Homo sapiens: one gene and its partners. The protein of the gene in region 3 interacts with the protein of the main gene of each other region in a pairwise test. Each region holds a gene or a part of one and is shown on either strand. Other genes may lie near its edges. The genes, in order: C11orf65, NXPE1, DLST, ARHGEF28, EGFL8, RAB3C and USP12.

Region 1 (3,500 bases), on a different chromosome or scaffold from region 3:
AATGAAGAAAAAGGGGGAAGAATGATCAAGACAAAGGAAAATCAAAACAAGAATAAAAGAAAAAAGAAGATACTGATGAGAAGGATAGATCAGAAAATAATAAGGAAAAGATAAAAAATAAAGGACTAAGTGTCCATAGTAGATGCTTTAAAATATTTTTAAATAAGAAGAAATTGCTATGATTCAATAACCCCAATATTTTGTGCAGACCTCAGTCTTGAGATTCCCTATAGACAGCATGTCTGTAGTTCCTGGGACACTGAACAAATGCAGATGGTAATAATGATGCAAGAAATGACAGCCAAACAAAGGAGCTGCAATGCCTTGCTTTTACTTTTCTTCCTAAGAGTAAAAATTGCTGAGTGGAAAAGAGAGGGAAGAAAGGGAAAGAGAGGTAGGAGAGGTCCATTTTGAATGAGTTTCCCAGGACTGGATAGAGAATTTTCTCAGGTGAGCTTTTGAAATCCTGCTCTGCCTTTCCCTTGTACCATTGGCCGATTCAAGCTAAGGGCCGGCAAACAAGTACAAAAAATTGATACCAGATATTCTATATTCTGTCATTACTGGAATATAAAAAGAATAAAACCATTGAGTTCAAAGGGAAGAAAAAATAGGCATCTCGGTCCACATAAGACTTTCCCCGCCATCATCCGCTAAGTGATAGTAGGTGAAGTCTTAATGGCTTCCCTTTAAAAAACAAAAAACAGGCTGGGTGTGGTGGCTTACGCCTGTAATCCCAGCACTTTGGGAGGCTGAGGCAGGTGGATCATGAGGTCGGGAGATCGAGACTATCCTGGCTAACACGGTGAAACCCCGTCTCCACTAAAAATACAAAAATTAACCCACCAAAAATTGGCAGGCACCTGTAGTCCCAGCTACTAGGGAGGCTGAGACAGGAGAATGGCGTGAACCCAGGAGGTGGAGGTTGCAGTGAGCTGACATCGCGCCACTGCACTCCAGCCTGGGCAACAGAGCGAGACTCCGTCTCAAAAATAAATATAAATAAATAAAAAATAAAATAAATAAAAAAAAAACCAGCCAGGCGAGGTGGCTCATGCCTGTAATCCCAGCGCTTTGGGAGGCTGAGGAGGGCGGATCTTGAGGTCAGGAGATCGAGACCATCTTGCTTAACACAGTGAAACCCCATCTCTACTAAAAATATAAAAAATTAGCCGGGCGTGGTGGTGGGTGCCTGTAGTCCTAGCTACTTGGGAGGCCGAGGCAGGAGAATGGCATGAACCCACGATTCATGCCATTGGGAGGCAGAGCTTGCAGTGAGCTGAGATCGCGCCACTGCACTCAAGCCTGGGTGACAGAGCGAGACTCTGTCTCAAAACAAAACAGAGCAAAACAAAAAAACCCAGGATAAACCAGTAAGACTTGAAGCAATTTCTTCATAGCATATAGGAGTGGGATGGATATACCTAGCTTTCAGATGATAAGAGCAACTGAAAATTTCCATTAAAAAAATGCAAATACCTTGCTTCCAAGTTATGTATAATTTCTATCAGTTTATCTTCTGAGTTGAGGATACTCATAATTTTGTACCAACATGGACTCTTAGCAAGGTTTTACATTGAGCCTTGAACAACAAAAATTTCAGATGAAATTTCAAGTGTGATTATCTGGGTATATTTCAGTAGCACTACTTGGCCACAAGCACTGATTATCTCAGTAAGACCAAACTTTGCAAAGGCCTTCCCCTAGCTAACTGCAGACATTAGGCATAAGCCCCTTCTTTCCAGCACATTTATGGTCTCCACAGTCTACTTCCCCGTTTGACCTTTGTAGACCTCTAGATATTTGTAACTGGCTTGGTGACACCTTGTTTGATGAAAATTTAAAAGTCTGACATTTGTCCCCTCTAGAGAATTGGTCACCCCTAATTCCTTGGAAAGTATCCTTCAACGTCTATGGACATTTTTCTACAGTTGGACAGTTAGAATGGCATAAATGCCTTGAACACTGATATTTAGTGATAACAACCAGTTTCTCCCCAAAGGCTTTTGTTCTAGTCCGTTATGACAGACCGATGCTCTCCTGAGATGAAACCATGTCCATCTTCAGATGCGTACTGCAACTATTAACCGAACATTGTTATTATCATTTGGAAGAATGGATAGAGCCAGTTTCACTAGTGGACTCAAACACACTAATGAGTACTGTTGCAAATTCCTGTATCCAGAGCTATGTTGCTGCAGCTGTTTAGAACCCAGAACAATCCCCACATCACCATCACGGAGTTATGCACAATGCCACAGGACAGCTACCGTGGCTTTTGCTGGCATTCATCCTAATGGATATTCAGATGTTCCTCTTCCAGGATCATCACGTTTTTCAAACAGCAAGTGAATTTTGACATACCTATTAAGCAATCACCAGCTAGAAAATATTAAATAATTTCCTGATACTCTGTTGGGGAGAGCTCTGTGCCTATGTCTGTTATGGATAGTTTCTATATCTGAAGCTGCTCCTTTGATTTCTAAGATATGTAGTTTTGTGACCTCTCTGGCTAGGGACTTTTTCTGAGCTCTTAAAGTGTTAAATTTGTAATTTAACAAATGGATTCATTGTAGACTGCACACACACTTGATAACTATTATCTAAAAATTTCTACAAATTTCTTCGTGAGAAAGATGAGCTCTGTGATATAAACAGCATGGTAGTGCTTTCATCAGACTTGCTTCTATGTCTGTAAAACTTAGATTTCTTATCAATTACTGCTGGTATGTTCTTTATGAGAAGTTCTTTTTAAAATAATGGAATAAAAGTCATGTGCTAATCTTGGATAAAGCAGGGACAGTGATGGGGCCTAGCTATGGTAAGTGTTTGTGCCCCAGATTGTCAGGGCTCAGCACACTATCGATCAAGGTCTTTTATCTTGGTTTCTTGAAGGTGGAATGAAAGTCTTTTCTGTGTATAAATCCAAGCAAGCAGGATGACTCTTTATAGTGCTCCTGAGCAACCACTGAAAGCACAAAGTCTGCTAAAATTTAAGGTCAAACCAAACTGAATTGCCTACTGAGAGATTGTGGAAGGAGTTACACCACCTGCTCTTGTCCTGCATCCTTTCATTTAAGTCACCCAGCAGTATCCTATTGAAGGCCATTGAAGAAAGTTCGCAGAGCACCAAGGGGTAGCAGTAGTAAGAAGGAGCCAAATTCAGACACAACGTCTGATTGTAATTAAATACTGTTGGATAGGCCAAGTGCAGTGGCTCACGCCTATAATCCCAGCACTTTGGGAGGCCAAGGTAGGTGGATCACTTGAGCCCAAGAGTTCAAGACCAGCCTGGGCAAAATACCGAGACCCCATCTCTACAAAAAATTAAAAAGTTAGCCAGGTGTGGTGACATGCATCTGTGGTCCCATCTATTCAGGAGGCTGAGGCAGGAGGATCACTTGAGCCCATTAGTTTGAGGCTGCAGTGACCCATGATGGCACCAGTGCACTGCAGCCTGGGAGACAGAGCGAGACCTTGTCTCCATAAAAATAAGTATT
Region 2 (3,500 bases), on a different chromosome or scaffold from region 3:
TTTATATCTTCTGCTTCAACATATTCACAGGTTTTAAGAATTAGGATGTGGATATCTTTGGGGGACTATTAGTCTCCCTATCTAATAAAAAATATAATGGAATCTATTTCTCAGTGGGCAGGTCTATGCAAACCTACTCCCAAAGTTTGAGGAAGCTGAGAGGCCAAAAAAGAGTCTGACACATCCAGTTTCTCGAAACATTTAGTAGGGACTTACAAGCAGAAGCCATGTTTATGTCTCCATTGTTGAGACAAGATGGTGGATCTCCACACCATTACCCCCAGATCTAGGGCTTACAGAGCATAAGGGAAGGGTGGTTCAGATGGGATGTACAGGACAATTGAAGTACAATACCACCAAGGCTGTTTGACCTACGGGCAAGATTTACCATAATTATCTGCTGTTATACAAGAAACACTAGATAAACCGGGGTTAATCAGGAGCCAACATAGCAGATTAGCATCTAAAATGGAGTTGCTTTTGCCTGATATACAGAATCCTGATATTATTACCCACATACTGTTCAAAATGCTCAAGCTTATTCTAAAACTATTAAGTAAAATAAACATGTAAGAGTAATCATAAGCAAATTTGTTATAAGTTTGAGACGTGGCAAAATGAATACCTGACACATAAAGATTACACAACATAGGGTTTACAACAATACACTTAAAGGCTATGTTCTCAGCAAAGTGTGCCAGTACATTATTAGGATAAAGAATACTTAATAACTATGAATCTCAAGTTTCCAGGGTCATGGTATTCAATCATCTAGGGTGCAATGCTATCAAGCCTCATAGAAACCCATCAATATCACACTGTAATTCCAACATAATTATAGGATTATACAAACTCCCTTTAGTAAGCCAAATCACCAGGACTTAAGAGCTATTCCAAGTGCACTTTCCAATTCTGCCACCAGCACCATTTTACCACTTTGTCCATAGGTTACAAATACAATACAACCATGTAATGATGCACTATTCTGTGGACATAGGCAGCCAGAGACTGCAAGGCCTCTGAGGAACTAAGCAAGGAGGGTAAAGCAGAAACTGCTGATGGTTCCCCAATACTCACTGCCTTCTCCTTCTTTAGTAATAGAAACCAGTTGTGGCTAGACCCATGGCTATCCTTTCTTATATCTAGTTGTGGCCATGACTAAGTTTTTTCCAGAAGTGCAAGTGGGAAACTTCTAGGTCATGCTTTAAAAGCAAAACAACTGGCCCTCCCTATCCATTTCTTCCCTTACTACTAGCCGAACTTTAGATATAATGTGAGAACAGCAAGAGCCAAGTTAGACCATGAGATTAAAGCCACACAGTAAGAATGTCATAGCCACAACATAGAAGGAACAAGAGTCCCTGACACCATGCAATGGCATATTAGCCCTGGCCTTCTCACTCCAGGCCTGTTATGTGAGACAGAAATAATCTTTTATTTTTAAGTCATTATTATCTTGGTCTTTCTTACAGCATTCAAACTGGTTTCCTATCTCATACAGAACGTAGTATCAGTATAGAAGTCCTGATATAACAAATCCTAAAATACAAGGCATTGGCTCAGTGATGGGATGGCAGCATAGAGAGTGGTAAGGAAACATGACAGGAGAAATTGGATGCCCTTTGTTATGCCATAACAAGACATTTGCTTCACTGCTACCTACCTGTAATAGAAGGCAGACCATGTGCAAACAGAGCCTGAAACTCTAGTGAAACTTCCTGGATTATCTCAGAATATTGGTTTGTATTGGATGTTGCATGTTGCTTTTAGCAAAGTCTGGTTTTACAAAAAATTGTCAAGCTAGGTGACTATTATACTATTTGAGGTTTTTATATTTAATGTACATATTTTAAGCCATTTTTTGAACACGGAAAAATTAAGATTATTCATTCCTTCATTAATGAAACAAAGGTAAAGAATTTTATACAGCGGCACCAACTGGCAGACCACTAACATCATTTGGGTAAGAGACAAAGACAGAAGTCACCACAGAGTCAGGAAAAAAGGATAGAACGTCAAAGAAAGGATAGAACGTCAAGATTTAGCTCATGACCAAATTTAGGAGGAAAGGAATTAGACAGAAGGCAAGATGACTCAAAATCTCTTAAAGGAATAAGCAGAAGTGCCTGAAGCAAAGCTAATGATCAAAGAATAGGACTAGAAAGGGACAGAAAAAGGAAATAGGCATTACAGGAAGGGGGAAAGAGAGCAAGAAAATGAAAGACCAGGAAAGAAGGCTAGATGTCTAAGTTTTGCCAATAAAATCATTTACGAGTGTCTTTGTTACCAGAGAGAGAAAAAATAGAAGAGACATGCCAAGTTGGAATGAAGCCTCCTGTCCCTGGTGGTTATACTTTACAAGGAAAATGGATAACAACATTTTGCAACCAGGTTCAGTTAGACACAATTAAGATAAATGGCTGTTTGAAAGGCAAACTCATTTACCTCCTGGGAGACTCTACACTACGTCAGTGGATCTACTACTTCCCCAAAGTTGTAAAAAGTAGGTAGTTACTTTATATTCTCTTAGAAATTCAGGCTGGTTTTAAAGTACTTTTAATGAGGTCTCTATTCTCTCGTTTGAGCTATTTTGTTTTTTACTTCATTTGGCTCTCTGGATTTGAACCTTTACATTTAAAATGTATTTTATTCCTTCTTTCATAAGAAATGTTGGTCTTCTTTTAAAATTCCAGTGAAAACTTTACATTTTTGATTGACATTTTACATGTATGAACTGGGGGTACTGTACCCTAGAGAGTAGAAAGGCTCCAGTGAGCAATTATCTAGGTAGGGTGGGTATTTTAAATGATAGGACATTCTTTTTCATGAATATTAACCATTATCTTCTATTTAAAACATCTATTTGTTTTTTTATCAGCACTGAAGTTTTTTGATCTTCATGAAACTGGAATCTTTAAGAAACATTTGCTTCTGGATGCAGAAAGACACACTCAGATTCAATGGAAAAAACATAGCTATCCCTTCGTCACTTTCCAGCTCTACTCTCTGATAGATCATGATTATATCCCTCGGGAAATTGACCGGCTATCAGGTGACAAAAACACAGCCATCGTCATCACCTTTGGCCAGCACTTTAGACCATTTCCCATTGACATTTTTATTCGCAGGGCCATCGGTGTTCAAAAGGCTATTGAAAGACTGTTCCTAAGAAGCCCAGCCACTAAAGTGATTATTAAGACAGAAAACATCAGGGAGATGCACATAGAGACAGAGAGGTTTGGAGACTTCCATGGTTATATTCACTATCTTATCATGAAGGATATTTTCAAAGACCTCAACGTGGGCATCATTGATGCCTGGGACATGACCATTGCATATGGCACTGACACTATCCACCCACCTGATCATGTGATTGGAAATCAGATTAACATGTTCTTAAACTACATTTGCTAAGGGATAAATACTATACAAAATCACTAGGAACCAATCTCTGCACATAATCCCACATGTATTGTAAAGTAAGTTTTACTCATTTTAGG
Region 3 (3,500 bases):
GTGTTTTGAGTGCGTACTGTATACAGAGTACTGTACTGTGGAATTCAGTGGGGATAGACGCTGGGCACCATGGCTCGTGCCTATAATCCCAGAGCTTTGGGAGGGTGAGGAAGGAGGATCGCTTGAGCTTAGGAGTTGGAAACCAGCCTGGGCAACATAGCAAGACTGTCTCTACATAAAATTTAAAAATTAGCCAAGTGAGGGCTGGGTGCGGTGGCTTGCGCTTGTAATCGCAACACTTTGGGAGGCTGAGGTGGGTGGATCACATGAGGCCAGGAGTTCGAGACCAGCCTGGCCAACGTGGTGAAACTCTGCCTCTACTAAAAATACAAAAATTACCCAGGCATGGTGGCGTATGCCTGTAATCCCAGCTACTCGGAAGGCTGAGGCACAAGAATTGCTTGAACCCAGGAGGAGGTTGCAGTGGCTGATATCGCGCCACTGCACTCCAGCCTGGGCAACAGAGCGAGATTGTGTCTCAAAAAAAAAATTATGTATGGTGGCATGGACCTATAGTCTCAGCTACTTGGGAGGCTCAAGTGATCTTCCTGCCTCAGCCTCCCAAATGGCTGGGACCACTACAGGCATGTGCCACCAGGCTTGGCCAATTTTTTTAGTTTTTGTAGAGACAAGGTCTCGCTGTGTTGCCTAGGCTGGTCTCCTGAACGTCTAGGGTCAAGCCATCCTCCTGCTTTGGTCTCCCACTGGGATTACAGGCATGAGCCACCATTCCTGGCCAAAAAAGAATTTTTAAACAGGTCTTCAAGAGTGACTAGCATTTTGTCAGCCTTGTGGAGAAAGGTCATTCCAGATGATGTTAACAGTGTAGACCATGAGATGGGAAAGTAGAAGACACATTTGAGAAATTGTCAAAAATCATTTCTGTTGTGAGGATTTTGTATAGCAAAGAATGGTAAAGAAGGTTGGATCCTTATTTCAGAATGTTTTGAATGCCAGGGTAGGAGTTTATATTTAATTCAGGAAGCAAGTCAAGTCTCAGGTCATCTCTTTCTTTCTTTTTGTCCTGAGGGTTTAGTCTGCGAATCTACTTTTCATTAGAGAAATTTGCTTTTCTTTGGAAAGGGTTTGAAAAATAGGGAGAAGGGAGTGTTTTCTTGATAGTGCGCTGTGGCATTGTTCAGAGTAGGGCTCTGTGACCTGTTTTACTAGATGTCATCCATTCTGTTGGGAAACTTTCCGAAGAGACTGGATGACATTCAAGCCAAAGATTTCTCTCTTGTTCATAGGATGTAGGGGAAGGACCTTGACTAATGAATCACAAAGGCTGCAGCTTATGTTTCAGTGCATTAGGGCCAAATTGTACACAAATTGAATTGGACTTTGAAATTCTACCCAGTTTCTTAAGACAAAACATGTAAATATTTGTGGCCCTGAAAGATGCAGTTGGCCCAACAGCTTTGATTGGAAAGGAAGCGTAATAGCTGGATCTCCTTTCAGCAGCTAATCAAGGTGTCACTTAACAATGGCCTGCGGTCTTGCTGCAGCCTAATTTGGTTTAGATCGAGTGCCCTTTGGGTCTTGTGCTGATCAGCTAACCCATAAGGGACCTTTCTGAGACCTTCTCCCTTCCTCTATTGTCCCAGCCTTTGCCTCCAAGGGCAGAGCTCTGAAATAGAAGCTACTTAATGACCAGACAATAACATTTGGGCAGGTTTGAGAGCAGAGATGTTTATCACATCTCTTTCCCTCTTCTGCAGCTCTTGTGTCTTGGGAACCAGTAATGTCTTTAGGGTGGTAATCCTAGCACTAAATAAGGTTAGAATCAGGAAAACAAGCATTTTAAACCCAATCAGTCCCCCTTGGAAAAACTTCCTTTTTCAAAAACAAAAGATCTGAAGGGGGCTGTTAAAATTGTACCACATCTTACCTTTCATGCTAATGTCGAATTAGGCCATTAGAGGGAGAAAGGGAGAACTGAGCATTTGGCCCTGAGATAAAGTTAAATTCAATTTTCATCGTAGAACTGCATTACTGCATTCCGATAAATACTGAGGTTTATGCAGCAAAGTGATGGGAAAGCCATTTCTCACTAACTCTGCAATGTGTCATTGAAAAAAAACCAGTCCCAAAAGAATAAAGGCTGCTCATGTTGTAAAGGCTTTTCAGAAGGCTTGCTGCTTAATCTGAAGGGAACCAGCCTAAACCACAAGTGGCCACTTTTCTAAATACCAAGGAAATCACAGCCATTAAACTAATCTTAGGGCAAGAACTATGTCTTAATTAGCTTTGTATCTTGGTACCTGGCCCTGACCCTCACATGTAGTAAGGTGTTAGTACCTGTTTGGAAGAATAAGTGGATGGAACTGCCAACCCTGGAAAGATGAAGAACGGATATGACTTTCCGTGGGCCTGAAAGAACACTGGGTTATACCCTTCCCTGCAGAGTCATGACTGCTTTTTCCCGCATGGAGCCTCATGTACCCATGAGCTGTTTATTTTAGTCTCCACTAATCAAGAGATAGGAGGAATATCACACGGGAGTTATACTCAGATTTGGTGGGGTTTTTTTTTTTTTTTTGTATTCTAACAAGAAATAAAAAGAATATTGCTTATTTTGTAGATTTTGTTTATACTTTAAAAAATTTTTTTTCAGGATGGATAGCTCAGTTATTCAGGGCAAGGATGTTGGTGTGCTGTGTGATCTCTTGTTCATATGATGTGTCACTGAAATCTGTGACTTCTAGACCATGAAGGAGCCCTGTAAAGAGATCAACCCACCTTAAAGACAGATTGGGCCTGATTCCTGTAGATTTCTTTGTAAAAGAACAGAGTTACTGTGTTAACCTCAGGTAGACTATTTCAAAACTTGAACTAAGGTAATGGTCCAGAGTGAGGGAAAAGCTCTCACCTAATTGTGTATATGGATTGAGAAACCTGTGTGAAAGTCAAAATGCAGGCTTTGTGGTCAGTTTGTTTTGTAATATTTTCACAGTAACATCCAGGAGATGAGGGCTCGGCACAAAGAGGCTTTTTTGAAGAAACATAACCTCAAACTAGGCTTCATGTCGGCATTTGTGAAGGCCTCAGCCTTTGCCTTGCAGGAACAGCCTGTTGTAAATGCAGGTGAGTTGCTTGTGGCTGGAATTGGAGAGGTCCTGGGAGGTAGGTGTATGAGCACAGACCTGCTCCCACATGCAGAGGATCAACAGACCAAGGCTTTTTATTTGCTACCTATAGAAATATCAGTATCTTCCCCAGGGATTTCTTGGTTCACCTTCCTGAAGCAGCATCATGATTACTTTCTACCCGCCAGCTGGGCAGAACAGTTTCTCTTCCCAGTGTACAGCTCGGCAGCTGCTCAGGCAGCAGGCAGTTCTGGGATAGCCCAGCTCTCCAGGCTGTCTCCTGTCAAGGTGGAAGCACGTGTTCTGGCTTCCTCCCCTCCCCCAGCTCCACAGGCCCTGTTACCTTGGGGCCTGACTTCCACAGTTGGTGTAGGCTCCTGGCTGACCTTTGATCTTAGGTCGATGGGCCTCACT
Region 4 (3,500 bases), on a different chromosome or scaffold from region 3:
AGTGACATGATTTTGAATCCTTTCACAAACCTGAATATTGGACATATTCCAATTCACTATTTTCTTTTTAAAGTATAGTTCTTCCAGATGCTATCTGACGGTGTAGAGCAGCAGTCCCCAACCTTTTTGACACCAGGGATTCGTGTTGTAGAAGACAGTCTTTCAATGGACTTTGGTGAGGGGGATGGTTTCAGGATGATTCAAGTGCATTATGTTTATTGTACATTTTATATAATGAAATAATAATACAACTCACCATAATGTAGAATCAGTGGGAGCCCTGAGTTTGTTTTCCTGCAACTAGATGGTCCTACCTGGGGCTGATGGGAGACGGTGACAGATCATCAGGCATTAGAGTCTCATAAGAAGTCCCCAACCTAGATCCCTTGCATGCACAGCTCACAGTAGTGTTCGCATTCCTATGAGAATCTAATGTTGCCACTGCTCGGACGGGAGGTGGAGCTCAGGCAGTAAAGTGAACGATGGGGAGCAGCTGTAAATACAGATGAAGCTTCACTCTCTTGCGTACTGCTCAACTCCTGCTGTGTGACCTGGTTCCTAACAGGCCATGGACCTGTACTGGTCTTTGGCCCCAGGGGTTGGGGACCTCTGGTGTAGAGCACAGATCTGTCCCCCTTTCTTCTAGGGAAGAAGTGACACCTCATGGTTAAGATTAGCAGCTGCAGGTCAGAGAGACTTGGGGAGACTCATGGCCTGCTGCTTCTAGCTTGTCTTGGCCAAGTCACCTAAACTTTTAGCCTCAGTTTTTGTCTATTTCTCTCATAAGATTGTAAAAAGGACTCAATAAGATAGTCTATATAAAGTGTTTAGCACAGAACCTAAGAGAATAACTCCTCAATAAACAATACCTTTAATTTTTTTTTTTTTTTTTTTTTTTTGAGACAGAGTCTCGTTCCATCACCCAGGCTGGAGTGCAGTGGTGTGATCTCAGCTCACTGCAACCTCCGCCTCCTGGGTTCAAGCAATTCTCCCGTCTCAGCCTCCTAAATAGCTGGGATTAGGGGTGCATGCCACCATGCCCAGCTAATTTTTATATTTTTAGTAGAGACGGAGTTTCACCATGTTGGCCAGGCTGGTCTCGAACTCCTGATCTCAGGTGATCTACCCCCGTTGGCCTCCCAACGTGCTGGGGTTACAGGCATGAGCCACCATGCCTGGCCTAAAAGTATTTCTTAACTGTACTGTTGAGTTTCCACGTTCATAGTCATCTCAAAATTAGTTTCTTTTTATGTATGTTGCTATGGAGCCATATATCCTCATTCATGGAATTGTGCAATTGGGTTTTTAGTCTTATGAATAATCTTAATATTTATCTTTCTTGAATTTATTTTCCTGTATTTGACCATTTTTTCCTAGTCTTTTAGAGTGTTTATACATTTTTCATATTCACTACCCCTTTTAGTCTCAAGGTATCCATAGGTTTGATAAACATTTATTCAATGCCTGAGGAAACAATAAAAGTGTTATTTAGGCTGAAATCTAGGGCAGAGCCATTTGATGTGTCTATGCAAACTTCAGTTCAGGTTGATGTTTATCAATTTCAAGTAGGCTTGTTCAACTAATTACTACTTATTTGTATCAGCATCTGGTTCTTAATCCCCCATCTCCTCATAAAGATATATACTGTGTCTATTATATCTCTTTGTCTAACAGTCTGGTAAATTATCACCACATAATAAAATGGGGTTATTCTCAAGTGACTTATTCTTTGGGAGCACACACTGGCTCCAAAATGCCACTGCTTTTTCTTCGAGGTCCTCATACACCACACTTTTAATAATCTGCTCTAGAATCTTAATCTAGGATCAACATGAAATGCCTTCTGTCTATAATTTGTAGAATCTGCCGTTTTGAAAGTTGGAATGACATGTGCTTGTCTCCTGTATCGAATCCCTCTGTCATTGTCCACAGTTCCTGATGGATTATGGTTAGGAAATCTCATCAGATTCTTTACTATCCTGGCATGTCCAGCAGCCTGGAACTGATTCAGACCAGCTTGATGCTCTCTTACAATGGACTTTCTCACTTAGAGATGTTCTTTCTCTCCTTTTTAATTAAAAAATCATTCCTTTCTAAAAGGAGACAAAATACAAATAGACATGGAGGAAATCTCTTTTCTTGATCAGTCTTCTATGCTCTATCACCAGCCCCAAGCCAACCTATTCCTTTCTTGACATTCTGGTTTTAAAAATAGTTGAAATAAAAATTTTAGTATCCTTAGATTTTTAGGAAACCTCAGGTTATTTGGGCCTTTAGACTGTCTGATACAATTCTAAAGAGCATGACTCCCTCATGTTTGTTCTTGCAAAGGGCCAGGGAAGAGAGTAAAAAGAAAGCCATTCATGGGCCGGGTGCAGTGGCTCACGCTTGTAATCCCAGCACTTTGGGAGCCCGAGGCAGGTGGATCACCTGAGGTGGAGAGTGCGAGACCAGTCTGACCAACATGGATAAACCCCGTCTCTACTAAAAATACAAAATTATCCAGGCATGGTGGCACATGCCTATAGTCCCAGCTACTCGGGAGGCTAAGGCAGGAGAATCGCTTGAACCCAGGGGGCGGAGGTAGCAAGTGGGCCGAGATCGCGTCATTGCACTCCAGCCTGGGCAACAATAGTGAAACTCCATCTCAAAAAAAAGAAAGAAAGCCATTTTTTTTTTATCATTTATGTATGAGTGGAAAATAGCACACACCTAGGAATCAGGAGACCTGGCTTTAGTCTTGAGCTCATTGAAAGTAATCTCTTCATATCTCCAAGAATCAATGTCTTTTCCAAATAGAAGGACTTTGGTTGTTTCTATAAACTGTGATGATTTCTTTAGGTAGTGATTTCATTGGCTATTTATAAAGCTTGGTGGAGATGGAATTTGGATATGGTAGTGTAGTAGGGAAATTAAAGTCCAGGTTTATCACTCTGTGGAATAACCTGTCTCCTTTTTTATTATCAGAAACCCACATTTAGGTATAAGAATCAGCTCATCTAATGTAAGTGTTGTCTTTCACGGAGTTGTCAACTTTGCAACTTGTCAAAAACTTCAGGAATGGATTTCTGGAAGTTGCTTTTATAGCAGTTATCACAGCCCCTAGAGATGTAGCAGGATTCAGCTGGCCATTCCTATTCTTGGAGAAAAAGAACAATGCACAAAACGCATTGCCAATGCTTTAATAGGGTTTTAACTGACGGATTTTTAAGGGGGAGTGAAATAGAAGTATTTCTCTTAAGTTCTATGTTTCCTGACATATGTAACTGTTATATAAAATACATGTATATTGTTTCTTCTCCCATTTGATCACCAGAAATATTGATATCTTGCTCACTGACAATAAAACAGTATCAAGGACTCCTTGATGTTTAGTTAGAAAAGTTCCAACTTGGACAGAAATTTGTTTATTATGAGACAAAGGTCTTATGTCCTTTGATTTTTAGTCTTCTTGTAAAAATGTTTTAGTGTTAATAAAAAGGTGCTTAAGATTTCAACTA
Region 5 (4,067 bases), on a different chromosome or scaffold from region 3:
TCTCCTTCCAGGCCACTCAGGACATTTTTAGCTTCTCTCCTCCCCATGTTCCCTTTTTTCTCTAAAGTCCCCTGACATCAGCCCTCCCAACTCCTAAGAGGGACTACCCATGAGAGTGGGGTTCTGAGGCTCCCCTATGGGGACAGTTCCGTTCTTGAAGTGTCAGTGTTGGGGAATATCTGTGGCCTATGAGGCCCATCTCAGGTTTGGGGATCCCCCAGTCCCTATGATCAGTGTTGGAGTACCCCCCTGGGAGAGCCTAGTTTCTTTGAGGCCCCAGGCCCTCTTTTAACTACCTTTGAATAGGTGTTATCCCTGTATTTATGGAAATAAAGTTCCATTTCCTCAGTGTGACTTGGCTCATTTCCAGGTGGAGGGGACCTGGCTCCCCAAGGAGGGTGGGGGTGGAGCCTGAGGCCTGGGTGCCCAGATGCCTGGTCTAGGGTGGGGACCCCCTTGGTGTTTCCGCTCTCTCTCAATGCCCATTCTTTGTGGGTTCCTGGTTCTCTGCGGGTTCTTTCCTGCTGAAGACAATTCTCTTCCTCTCCCAGTCCCCAAGACTGGGGGGTTAAGCTCAGGGCTCCAGTGGTTTGGGCCTCAGCCTCATGGGTGGAATGCGCCTGCCACCCCCAGGCTAGACGAGGGGGCAGAGGGTCAGGGTGGGCATTCGTTGTGCCGCTTTTGAGCTTTGTGGGCCAGAGCTGGGTGTAGGGCTGGACAATGAGCCTCCTCTTCCTTGAAAGAAGGAATTTTGGCTGAGACAATAGGGCCCTGTCTGTTCTGGCATGGGGGGTGGTGGCTGACTCAATTCTGTTCCCCCTAAGCCCTAACAAATGTCATGAAGAGAGGGGGGCAGTTTTCCCCTTGGTGCCCTGGGCTGCCCCCCTGCCCCTTTGTGACGACTTGCCCTTCTAGCTTTCCTCAGCTGATCTTGCTTTTTCTCCCATAACCTGAACTGCTTTGTTCCCTGCAGCTGGTTCTCTCCCTGCCCCCTAACTCTCCCCTAGTCTGTTTTGGGTTCAAGGGGGTACTGGTGGTGTTACAGAGCTCATAGCTTCTGATCTGGGGAGTCCAGAAATAGGGGCCTCAGAGGGTTGGAAAGATACTTCTAGGGAGCCCTTTGCTGGGGTGGGGATGAGGGTAGTGGGACTTGACCCTACTGAGCTGACCCTGCTGGAGCTAAGGAGGAGGCTTGTGGGAGGGGGCAGGAATGGGAGGACTCTCTGGCCCAGCCCCTCCTCTCCTTCTTAGCCTGCCAGGCCCACCCACCAGTCTGAGCTGCTTCTGCTGAGGCTGGTCTGCTTGAAGCCTCCCAGGAGAAAGAAGCCAGGTGGGAATGGAGAGAGAGAGGAAGGCAAGTGGGGAGAGAATTTCAAATGGGGAAAGAGTGGGGTTTACTCAGAGCCTTAGGGTGGGCATGAGTTGCGGGGTGTTTTGTTGGAGCAAGGGATGTGCATTTAGGGCGTTATGTGACGGTGTGGGTATATGAGGGGAGTAGCAGTGTGTGAAAGGTGTGGAGTTTCCAGGTGCTTGGTTTGTGTGTACGGTGTGAAGGTATATAGCTAGGGGTTTTTTTTGTTTGTTTGTTTTGTTTGTTTTTTTGAGACGGAGTCTTGCTCTGTCGCCCAGGCTAGAGTGCAGTGGCATGATCTTGGTTCACTGCAACCTCTGCCTCCAGGGTTCAAGGGATTCTCCTGCCTCAGCTTCCCGAGTAGCTGGGATTACAGGCGTCCACCACTGCGCCTGGCTAATTTTTTGTATTTTTTAGTAGAGATGGGGTTTCACCATCTTGGCCAGGCTGGTCTCGAACTCCTGACCTCATGATCCACCCACCTCAGCCTCCCAAAGTGCTGGGATTACAGGTGTGAGCCACCGCGCCCAACCAGCTAGGGTTTTGAAGGTATGAAGTTATAAGAGGGCATGTTAAAGACAGGAGGGTTGGCCAGGCATGGTGGCTCACACCTGTAATCCCAGCACTTTGGGAGGCCAAGGCAGGCGGATCACCTGAAGTCGGGAGTTCGAGACCAGCCTGACCAACATGGAGAAACCCCGTCTCTACTAAAAATACAAAACAAAATTAGCCGGGCGTGGTGGCAGGCGCCTGTAGTCCCAGCTACTCGGGAGGCTGAGGCAGGAGAATGGCATGAACCCGGGAGGCGGAGCTTGCAGCAAGCCGAGATCGCACCACTGCACTCCAGCCAGGGTGACAGCGAGACTCCGTCTCAAAAAACAACAACAAAAAAAAAACCAAAAAAAAAAAACCCTAGCTATATACCCTCACACCCTACAAAACAAAACAAAACAAAATTAGCCAGGCGTGGTGGCGCATGCCTGTAATCCCAGCTATTTGGGAGGCTGAGGCAGGAGAATCACTTGAACCTGGGGGGCGGAGGTCGTGCGGTGAGGCAAGAACATGCCATTGCATTCCAGCCTGGGTAGTAAGAGCGAAACTCCTTCTCAAAAACAAAAACAAAAAAAAACCCAAAAAAAGACAGGAGGGTCATAAGGGGAGGGTTGACTGTGTGTCCCTCCAGGTTGTGCAGAGGGGATTAGAAGTAAGTAGGTTAGAGGGGAGGTGGAGGGAGTGTGCTGGGGTGTGAGCTTTTATGATGCTGAAAGGATCATGATATGCTAAGGACAGGATAGTGTTGGGTTGTACACACAGGTGTAGGCAATCCTGGTGGCTAGTATGTAAAAGTGAATGTCCTGACTCCCTTAGAGGGTACCTGCAGAGTGCCCTTGGAGGGACTAGTGCTGGAGAAATTAATAGGAGAGGGGACGGGCATCCATTAACCTTTTCTTGCCTGCAGCCTGTAGGGTCCAGCGTCAAAGCGAATCATGGGGTCCAGGGCTGAGCTGTGCACTCTCTTAGGCGGATTCTCCTTCCTCCTGCTACTGATACCAGGCGAGGGGGCCAAGGGTGGATCCCTCAGAGAGAGGTGACAACAGAGGGGGTAGGGCCCGGGGTGAGCTCTTCTCAGGAGCCTTCTGCTGGGGGTGGGGCTTCACAGGAGGCAAAACATAACTGTAAGTTTAGAATGGGGGTGAGAGGCTGTCATCTGGAGGGAGAGCGGGGGGCCTCAGTAGCCTCTTGAGGGAAGTGGGACTCCTGGCTCCCCAGGGCCTGGCCTACTCAATCTCTCCCACCTCATCCTCTGGCATGGACGCAGTCAGGGAGTCTGCTCCAAGCAGACACTGGTGGTCCCGCTCCACTACAACGAGTCCTACAGCCAACCAGTGTACAAGCCCTACCTGACCTTGTGCGCTGGGAGGCGCATCTGCAGCACTTACAGGTGAGGGATGGGGAGATGGGACCCCAAGAACCCCAACTAGGACCCGTACTCAGGGTCCTGAGCCGGGCGCTGTGTTCCAGGACCATGTACCGCGTTATGTGGCGGGAGGTGAGGCGGGAGGTTCAGCAGACCCATGCAGTGTGCTGCCAGGGCTGGAAGAAGCGGCACCCGGGGGCGCTCACCTGTGAAGGTGAGGCTGGGTCTTCCGGGCCTTGCGGGAGGCGCGCCCCACGGAGCTGGGGAGCTGGGTCGTCGGTTTGAGTCTGAACCCCACTTCCTCTGTCCTCAGCCATCTGCGCCAAGCCTTGCCTGAACGGAGGCGTCTGCGTTAGGCCTGACCAGTGCGAGTGCGCCCCCGGCTGGGGAGGGAAGCACTGTCATGTGGGTGAGTCAGCTTGTCCTCCCCACCTACCCAGGTGCTTGCCCCCGCCCCCTCTCTCAGCCCCTTCCTTTTTTCGGTAACTAGACGTGGATGAATGTAGGACCAGCATCACCCTCTGCTCGCACCATTGTTTTAATACGGCAGGCAGCTTCACCTGCGGCTGCCCCCATGACCTAGTGCTAGGCGTGGACGGGCGCACCTGCATGGAGGGGTCCCCAGAGCCCCCAACCAGTGCCAGCATACTCAGCGTGGCCGGTGAGTGGGCAGGAGTACGGGCCACCCGAGGGACTCGGGACGGGCGTCCGGGCTCGGGTAGTGGTCACACTCTTGGTCTCCTTTGTCCCTAGTTCGGGAGGCGGAAAAAGATGAGCGCGCTCTGAAGCAGGAGATTC
Region 6 (3,500 bases), on a different chromosome or scaffold from region 3:
TTTTTCCACTGATCCTTCCCAATTCTGTGAATATTCAACATCATTGAACAGATTGAGACATATCTACTGAATGCCAGTTATGCAACAAGCATTTTAACCAAGAAGGGTATGAGTAGCTATGGAATTCCAAGGTCCAAGCCCCCTTATTTTTCAATGACTTGCCTTCCCCAACCCCCATAATGCACACCACCACCACCATCACTTTCTGGAACCATCACCAACTCTTGGACTAGAGCTTATGTTGAAGCTTGTTAGGGCTCCTCTTTCCGTAGGATGTAGACTTGCCTCCCCAAACACGGCCATCTTCTCAAACCTCAGCTAAGTTCTTTTACCTGTTTAGATGCTATTTAAATCAGATTTCAAAGGGTCCCCAGTTGAGAAAAAGGAAAATTTTAATCTTTAATCATCTTTTTAAGTCCAGATGTTCATAAATTCTAAAGCATATTCCTATTACGTGAATGCTTAAGTTACACAGGAAACATTCTATAACTGTAGTATTTCAATTTCAGAAATATTTAGGATCCATAGCAATTTAAAAGAGGGAGGAAACCACTGGAGCATTCTAATTTTGTATCACAAACTTCCTAAAGGACCTATATGAATAAAGAGAAAACAACAAATCCTACCAGCTGTACAGAGAGCAACAGGGAAATTTGGCCTCTGTATCACTGTCCAGCATTATTTAAAGCTAGGATTTAGGAAGGAAGCAGGAATTATTTGGCAGATTTGGAAGGATAGTTTCGTTAAGTGAACTTTCTACTTTTTTGGTGGTTATGTCAAAGAATTTTTTTCCTCTTCTCAAAAATAGAGAGGCTTCCCATGAAAGTATTGGATGCAAATGAAACAGGCATACATCTAAAGATATCTTTGGAGAATAAATCCTTACAAGTCACAGAACTAGGTCACACACATTAGTAAGTCAAAAGTTGGAAATTAGGGGAGAGAGCATTTGGAATGCTTTAAGCATTTCCATGTTATTTCTCACCTTCCTAGTTGAAGATCCACTAATCAGTAGTACATTTCTACTTTGGTGCCCTACAAAGCAAACCTTAGCATAGTAAAGACAAGAAAACATTAATGTTTTATTAGTTTTTAATGGGGCAACCAACTTCAAAATCACAGGAATTACAGTGACGGGAGAGAAAGAAGCAGGAGGCATAAAAACAGATTTGTTTGTAGCAGTAGTCTGTTTGTACAATGTTATAATATTTCTGTAACTTGGGCCAGAATGTGGCCATGTTAAATGATATAGCTATTAAGCTCACTTTTACAATCTAAAAGGAACTAATAAAGCCAGGAAACCCTTCTCATCCTCCTTCACAGCCCTCATCCCACACATAGATGTAAAAAGCTTAGAAAGAATATTCTGATGGCTTTTTCAGAAGGAAGGACCTTGATGTGTGTATTGTGGTAAAATGAAAAGCAAAATGAGACAGTATTTAAAAGTGAAAGAGCAGAGTTTTGCTCTGCTGAAAACCCCTTCCCTGAAGAACTGATTGCTGTTGAAGTTAATTGGCCCTTAGATGGGAAGCCCTAAGCCAAGCTCCCACTTACACAGTGTCAAACATCCCGAAGTGGAAACATTTTATGCCAGTCAGGGGAGAGACAGGCAACAATAGCCCAAATGTCATTGCCAAGAAACATCTGATACTTTCTAATTTCTAAACCCCAATGGAAGTGAGGCCTTTTTCATTGATTCTCAGTTCTGAAACTCCCACCCTGTTAGGATTTCCATTCCAAATAATTCAATGAGAGGTTTCCAGAGAAACAGTCACAGAGCTCAAGAGAAAGAACACTTAAATGCTCCTGCTGTAATTGCATCAAAAAATCCGGGTTTTAACATCAAATTTGGCAAATGGTGGGACCAACCCAAGGTTAACTAAGTGGGCTTTCATTGGCATTGAGCTATGTTACTTATAAATTATAACACTATAGTTCCAAGGTTTTTCAGCCTTTTGGCCAACACACACACACACACACACACACACACACACACACACTATACCATCATCTATCAATAGTCTAAATACATAAATAAATGCAGGTCATTTTTATCAATGGCCTAACTAAATTTATATTTAAAAGAACAAGACTTTTAAAAAGTACATACTCCTGTTGGTTTGTAAGTTATACACATTTATCTCTTGTCTTTGATTTAATTAAATTAGTGTTTTAAGTATGAATTTATTTTCCTTTGCTACTCATTACCTGACCACTTTCACTCCTCTAGATACCCTTAGGAATAAACCTGAACTGTTCCAAATCGATTCTTCCAAGAGCTTTGGTGTTGGTACCTTCCTTTCTTTTCCTAATGCAACTGAAAAATTAGACTGAAAATTATTTGACTTAAATAGCCATCCTCAGAGTGAATCAGCATTTCAGTTTTTGGAGATGGGGATGGAAGTAGAAGGTGCACAAAGCGTCCTAAGATGGCAGTTTGAATGTTAGCATCGCATCTACATGCTCATAAGAGGAATTGCTTCAGGACAATGAATCAGTTCATTGTTGCTGCCCCCAGTGAACAGCTCCAACTGCCTTGATGAACTTCTAATGACTGTGAAAGCTAGGAGGTTCTTCTAGTTCCTCCTTAGGGTCACTTGAAGTTCAGTATTTTTTTGCTGCCTGGTAACTAAGTGCTAAGATTTTTACTTGGAAAGAAAACTATGACAATGCCTTCAGTTGTAGCAGAAAGTTGTGGCATTGTGATAATAAACAAAATCTACAAAGTTACAACCCAAATTATACAAGACATCAAAACACTCAGTAAACAAATATATATATTTCACCTACTTAAATCTTATTCATATTAATTATAGGCCTTTTGTTTAGTACACTGGTTATTTTTTAAGGAACCAATTTAAACTTTCAATTTTAAATACATCTATGCTGACGATAGACTTTCGGGTATATACAACCTTCTTCTTCTCTTTTAAAAGTTAAATACATTCCACTATTAACTGAACTTCCATGAAGCAACATTAATTTTAGAGCATGGTAGTCCATAATCAGTGGTTCATTGTGATGTGCTTTATCCAACATGTATCTTAGTGCATGGTTGAGGATGTACTATGTGATATTTTAGTTAACAGTGTGGCATTTGTGGGACTATATTAAAAGCATATCCAAACTACCAAGCTATACCAAGCTGAGGTAGGTAACACCTGCATGTGAAAAACTGTGATATGAATCTTATTTATAAAAAAGTCATAACTAAAACCCTTCTAGACCAAAAAGTTACTGTGTGTTTGTTAATAATCTTCATAGTACTACTGGAATGCTCAATCAGTTATTTTTGGTGTGGCATACTTCAGAGCTGGCCTGTCCGTCTGAAGAACCCTTTCTCTCACAATTACAGTTTGCATGACTAGAACCCGGAACTCTGTTCCTTTGCGTGTATAGTCACTTAGTGTGCTGTCCGGGTGCCACATGAGCAACTACACCCATGTGGCCTTTCTGTCACTCCCTGGAAAATGCAACCTCTACAGCTCTGCTCAGCTCTG
Region 7 (3,500 bases), on a different chromosome or scaffold from region 3:
CCAAGTGCTGGGATTACAGGCGTGAGCCACCGCACCTGGCCTCCCTTGTTTTATTCTAGGTGTGTAAAGGTTAGGTGACCACTCAACTGCTGGGCTTGGACGTTGCAGAGTAAGAAGTAGGAATTAGACTACAATCTATAGACCCAGACATTTGTCTCATATCATCACCAGTCATATATAAATGAAAAACTATGAGAAAAAAGTGAAAAGCAACATATGCATACAACTTTCAAAAATAAGAAATTAAGAAACTACTTACTTCTACAATGTCGTCATCAAACAACAACCAAAAATCATGACTCTTAACTATTGCAATATAATGGCCTCGATTGGGACCACTAAAACAAACGAAGAAGAAGTTAATTCAATATATTTATTAATATTACTCTTTCATGCTCTAAATTTTGTTTTATAAAGAAACAGAAACAGATAAATAGCAGTAAAAAAGAACTGCTTCTTTTTTATACCCCTTACCTATTCTTGCCAAAAGAGATAAAGCTACACTGAGTTGAACTGGTCATCAATTTTAAAATCAAATAATTAGTACTCTAAGAGATATATCAGTATTCTTTTCACATACAGCTATATTACTGAAATTTTTTACTGTCTTTGTAATAATTTTCAATTTTGCTTCTATAATAAAAGACATATTTTTCTATCATTTTATAAGGGAGGGGATCACAGCAGAACATGCTGAGTTGGACTATAAAACAATGCATATAGAATTATTTCTAAGTCTCACTCCCTTGGTAATGGTTTTTTTCTTGAGGAAAGATCCAATATGATGCTTGAAACAGGCAAGGATATCAAATCCTTGGTTCCAAAATCAAGCCTGAACTTCATAAAATGTCTTTAAAAGCAAATGACCTTTGCTCAATGGTAAGTCATTATTAAGTACCTAATTCTTAATACCATTATAACTATGACTATGATTGCCCCTGCATCTCATTTCAAACAAATCTGGAATATATAAATGTAGATATACATAAAAATAAAAGAAGCATAATTCCTTTTCTTTATAAAAGGATATGACAAAGGTTTTAACCTCTTCCAGTTTAAGTATGGTTCATTATAAAGGCTCATATAATTATATTTATTAAATTGTAATTCTATAATTAATACAGAAGTTAAAATCCTTTTCAACACAAATTATTCTTTATGGTGAACACTATTTTAAAAGTAGTGACCAGATATTAGAATAAGCCACCTACTATAATATCTTATGTTTCTCAGATCATTTGATCCTGTAGGTGAGATAAATATCTTTGACAGAATGACACCAACAAAAATACTTTTTTTTTTTTAACTATGGAGGATGACACATCAAAACTTTTTCTTAAAAAAGCATTTAATGCTTTAAGTCTATTTCTGTATTTATTTAGGCTCATCTAAAGGGTCTTGTGTGTTATGGGGAGAGGGTCAGAAATGAAAACAAAATTATAAAAGGTGAAATAAAGAAAAATCAAAGAAAGGTTGCAGAACACAGGGTGGAAGGAAAGGAGGTGGGTGGGGTAAGGACTGGTAAATTGAAAAAAGTTAGGCGGCTTTTTCCTTTGGCAAAGAACTAGTTTGAGGAACAGTAGACAAAAGTTAATTTCATAAACTAAAAATGAAATGAGAGATGAAGGGCTGAACTTCCACCTAAGGAAGTTGTTTCTTAGGCATCTGATTTCTGGACATTAAACACACTCAGTTGAGTAGATACAAATGCGTAAGGTATGCAAATAACTATTGATTGCTGTGGAGATTAAAGAGATACCAACAACTGCTTGCCCAAATACCCCTTCAGTACAATAGATAACTACTCCAAAAACATAATCCAAGGAAGAATATGATATAAAAGTAGAGCCACAGGAGAGACCTCATCCAGCAAGACAGGAGGTAGAAGGGAGAGAGGGATGGGAAATCACGAAATGGTGCCCAGTTTTGACATGGGCTTGAAGGGTAATACTTAAGTCAACAAACATTTGCTAGAAGTCTCTTCTAGGCTGGGCACCGGGGACAGAGAAGGAGCAAGCTGAACTGGAACTGACATGCTGATAATGAGGCTGCGCACACCCTCCACACTTTCATATGAAGCAAATCTACAAATAAGTCTGATAAATAAAATACACAATGGAAAAAGATTCTAAAATATGATTAGTCTTTTATTAGTGAGCAAATTATTTTCTGTTTTAAAAAGCACCTGTTCTCATAAGGGAAGTAGACATACATCCTAAGAGAGTACATAAAGCACTAAGACAGGGCTAGCAATGCACGTCTAGTATTTATGTGAAGACAATGGAGCAGCACCACATGGAGACTGAGGCTGGGCAGAAGAGCGTCAAGGAAGACTTCCAGAGCGGAGGGGCAGGAAGGCATGAGGCAATGAGAGTGAGACAGGAGAAAGAGTAAGACCCTGGGGTGGGGGCGGGATACCAAAGACCTGCTGTGCAGAACTCCATCAGGAGAGAGTTCCCAGTGAAGGCAGACCACCAGGGCTGTGAGGAAAGTCAATAAACATCTCTCTGCAATTTTCTGCAACAATTCTGACAGTAGGGATTCAGACAGCTGGCAAGAGGATTTTACAGTGCTTGTGAGAACATGCTTTAAATAACTGACTGTGGAGTTCAAGTTGGGAGAAGCAAGTGAGGCCAAAGAAAAGGTTAAAAAGGGAAAGGGTCAAGAGACTTAAGGATTTAAGGCTGGGGAAAGAGTTGGGTTAATTTTAAAAGGGGAGAGTGGGGAGGGGACCCCTCCCCAATGAGTCAGGCATCTCAGCTCAGTATATTGTGAGTAGAGCAATTCTAAAAATCTAGCATGATTTAAGTAGAGTAGGACTGTCACTAAATTTGAAGAGGCTAATCGGTGTGAGAAAGTAAATATTATAAAGCTAAGATGTGAGAAGGTAATATTACATTTTTGTTAATAGAACAGTAGCAGTAGCTAAGCGATTTACATCTCCCTTTGAATCCTAACAAAGCAATGTGGTAATTAGTATTATTTACATTTTCTAGAAGAGAAAACTGAAGGCTTTTCAGGAAGCTATGCATAACGTTACACTGCCCACAATTGGCAGAAATGGTACTGAGATCCAAGTTTCTCTCACTCTGAAAACCCGGTCTGAATCACTACACCAAGGTTCTTTAAGTAATCTTGACACTGCTTCACTCCTTTAAGATGTGATCACTCTTAATTTAGAAGTAGAAGAAAGATTCTTGCTGAGGATAAAAGACGGGACCCAAGGCTGACCCAGGCAATGGAGGAAGAAGACGATTATTAAAGAGCATTTGCTCCCTCCAGATTGTCCTTAAAAATTCTCATCAGAGGCCGGGCGCGGTGGCTCACGCGTGTAATCCCAGCACTTTGGGAGGCCGAGGCGGGCAGATCACGAGGTCAGGAGATTAAGACCATCCTGGCTAACATGGTGAAACCCCGTCTCTACTAAAAATACAAAAAATTAGCCGGGCGTGGTGGTGGGTGCCTGTAGTCTCAGCTACTCGGGAGGCAGAGGCAGGAGA

The links.
Region 1: the proteins of DLST (region 3) and C11orf65 interact in binary tests that used the Homo sapiens proteins (3 or more experiments, as listed by UniProt).
Region 2: the proteins of DLST (region 3) and NXPE1 interact in binary tests that used the Homo sapiens proteins (3 or more experiments, as listed by UniProt).
Region 4: the proteins of DLST (region 3) and ARHGEF28 interact in binary tests that used the Homo sapiens proteins (3 or more experiments, as listed by UniProt).
Region 5: the proteins of DLST (region 3) and EGFL8 interact in binary tests that used the Homo sapiens proteins (3 or more experiments, as listed by UniProt).
Region 6: the proteins of DLST (region 3) and RAB3C interact in binary tests that used the Homo sapiens proteins (3 or more experiments, as listed by UniProt).
Region 7: the proteins of DLST (region 3) and USP12 interact in binary tests that used the Homo sapiens proteins (3 or more experiments, as listed by UniProt).

Annotation. Positions count from the first base shown.
Region 1 is NC_000011.10:108,387,530-108,391,029, reverse strand, and holds part of C11orf65 (protein MFI), read left to right. Parts: intron 1-3,500. UniProt on the Homo sapiens protein: Acts as an inhibitor of mitochondrial fission. Interacts with MFF and prevents DNM1L recruitment to mitochondria, promoting a more fused mitochondrial network.
Region 2 is NC_000011.10:114,521,882-114,525,381, reverse strand, and holds part of NXPE1 (NXPE family member 1 isoform 1 precursor), read left to right. Parts: intron 1-2,290; coding exon 2,291-2,503; intron 2,504-2,878; coding exon 2,879-3,414; 3' UTR 3,415-3,500.
Region 3 is NC_000014.9:74,895,416-74,898,915, forward strand, and holds part of DLST (dihydrolipoyllysine-residue succinyltransferase component of 2-oxoglutarate dehydrogenase complex, mitochondrial isoform 1 precursor), read left to right. Parts: intron 1-2,953; coding exon 2,954-3,084; intron 3,085-3,500. UniProt on the Homo sapiens protein: Dihydrolipoamide succinyltransferase (E2) component of the 2-oxoglutarate dehydrogenase complex. The 2-oxoglutarate dehydrogenase complex catalyzes the overall conversion of 2-oxoglutarate to succinyl-CoA and CO(2).
Region 4 is NC_000005.10:73,632,696-73,636,195, forward strand, and holds part of ARHGEF28 (rho guanine nucleotide exchange factor 28), read left to right. Parts: intron 1-3,500. UniProt on the Homo sapiens protein: Functions as a RHOA-specific guanine nucleotide exchange factor regulating signaling pathways downstream of integrins and growth factor receptors. Functions in axonal branching, synapse formation and dendritic morphogenesis.
Region 5 is NC_000006.12:32,163,328-32,167,394, forward strand, and holds the start of EGFL8 (epidermal growth factor-like protein 8 precursor), read left to right. Parts: upstream 1-1,267; 5' UTR 1,268-1,330; exon of another isoform or gene 1,331-1,354; intron 1,355-2,810; 5' UTR 2,811-2,838; coding exon 2,839-2,939; exon of another isoform or gene 2,940-3,170; coding exon 3,171-3,293; intron 3,294-3,373; coding exon 3,374-3,483; intron 3,484-3,582; coding exon 3,583-3,678; intron 3,679-3,759; coding exon 3,760-3,930; intron 3,931-4,022; coding exon 4,023-4,067.
Region 6 is NC_000005.10:58,852,075-58,855,574, forward strand, and holds part of RAB3C (ras-related protein Rab-3C), read left to right. Parts: 3' UTR 1-3,500.
Region 7 is NC_000013.11:27,070,812-27,074,311, forward strand, and holds part of USP12 (ubiquitin carboxyl-terminal hydrolase 12), read right to left. Parts: intron 339-3,500; coding exon 260-338; intron 1-259. UniProt on the Homo sapiens protein: Deubiquitinating enzyme that plays various roles in the regulation of the immune response and inflammation.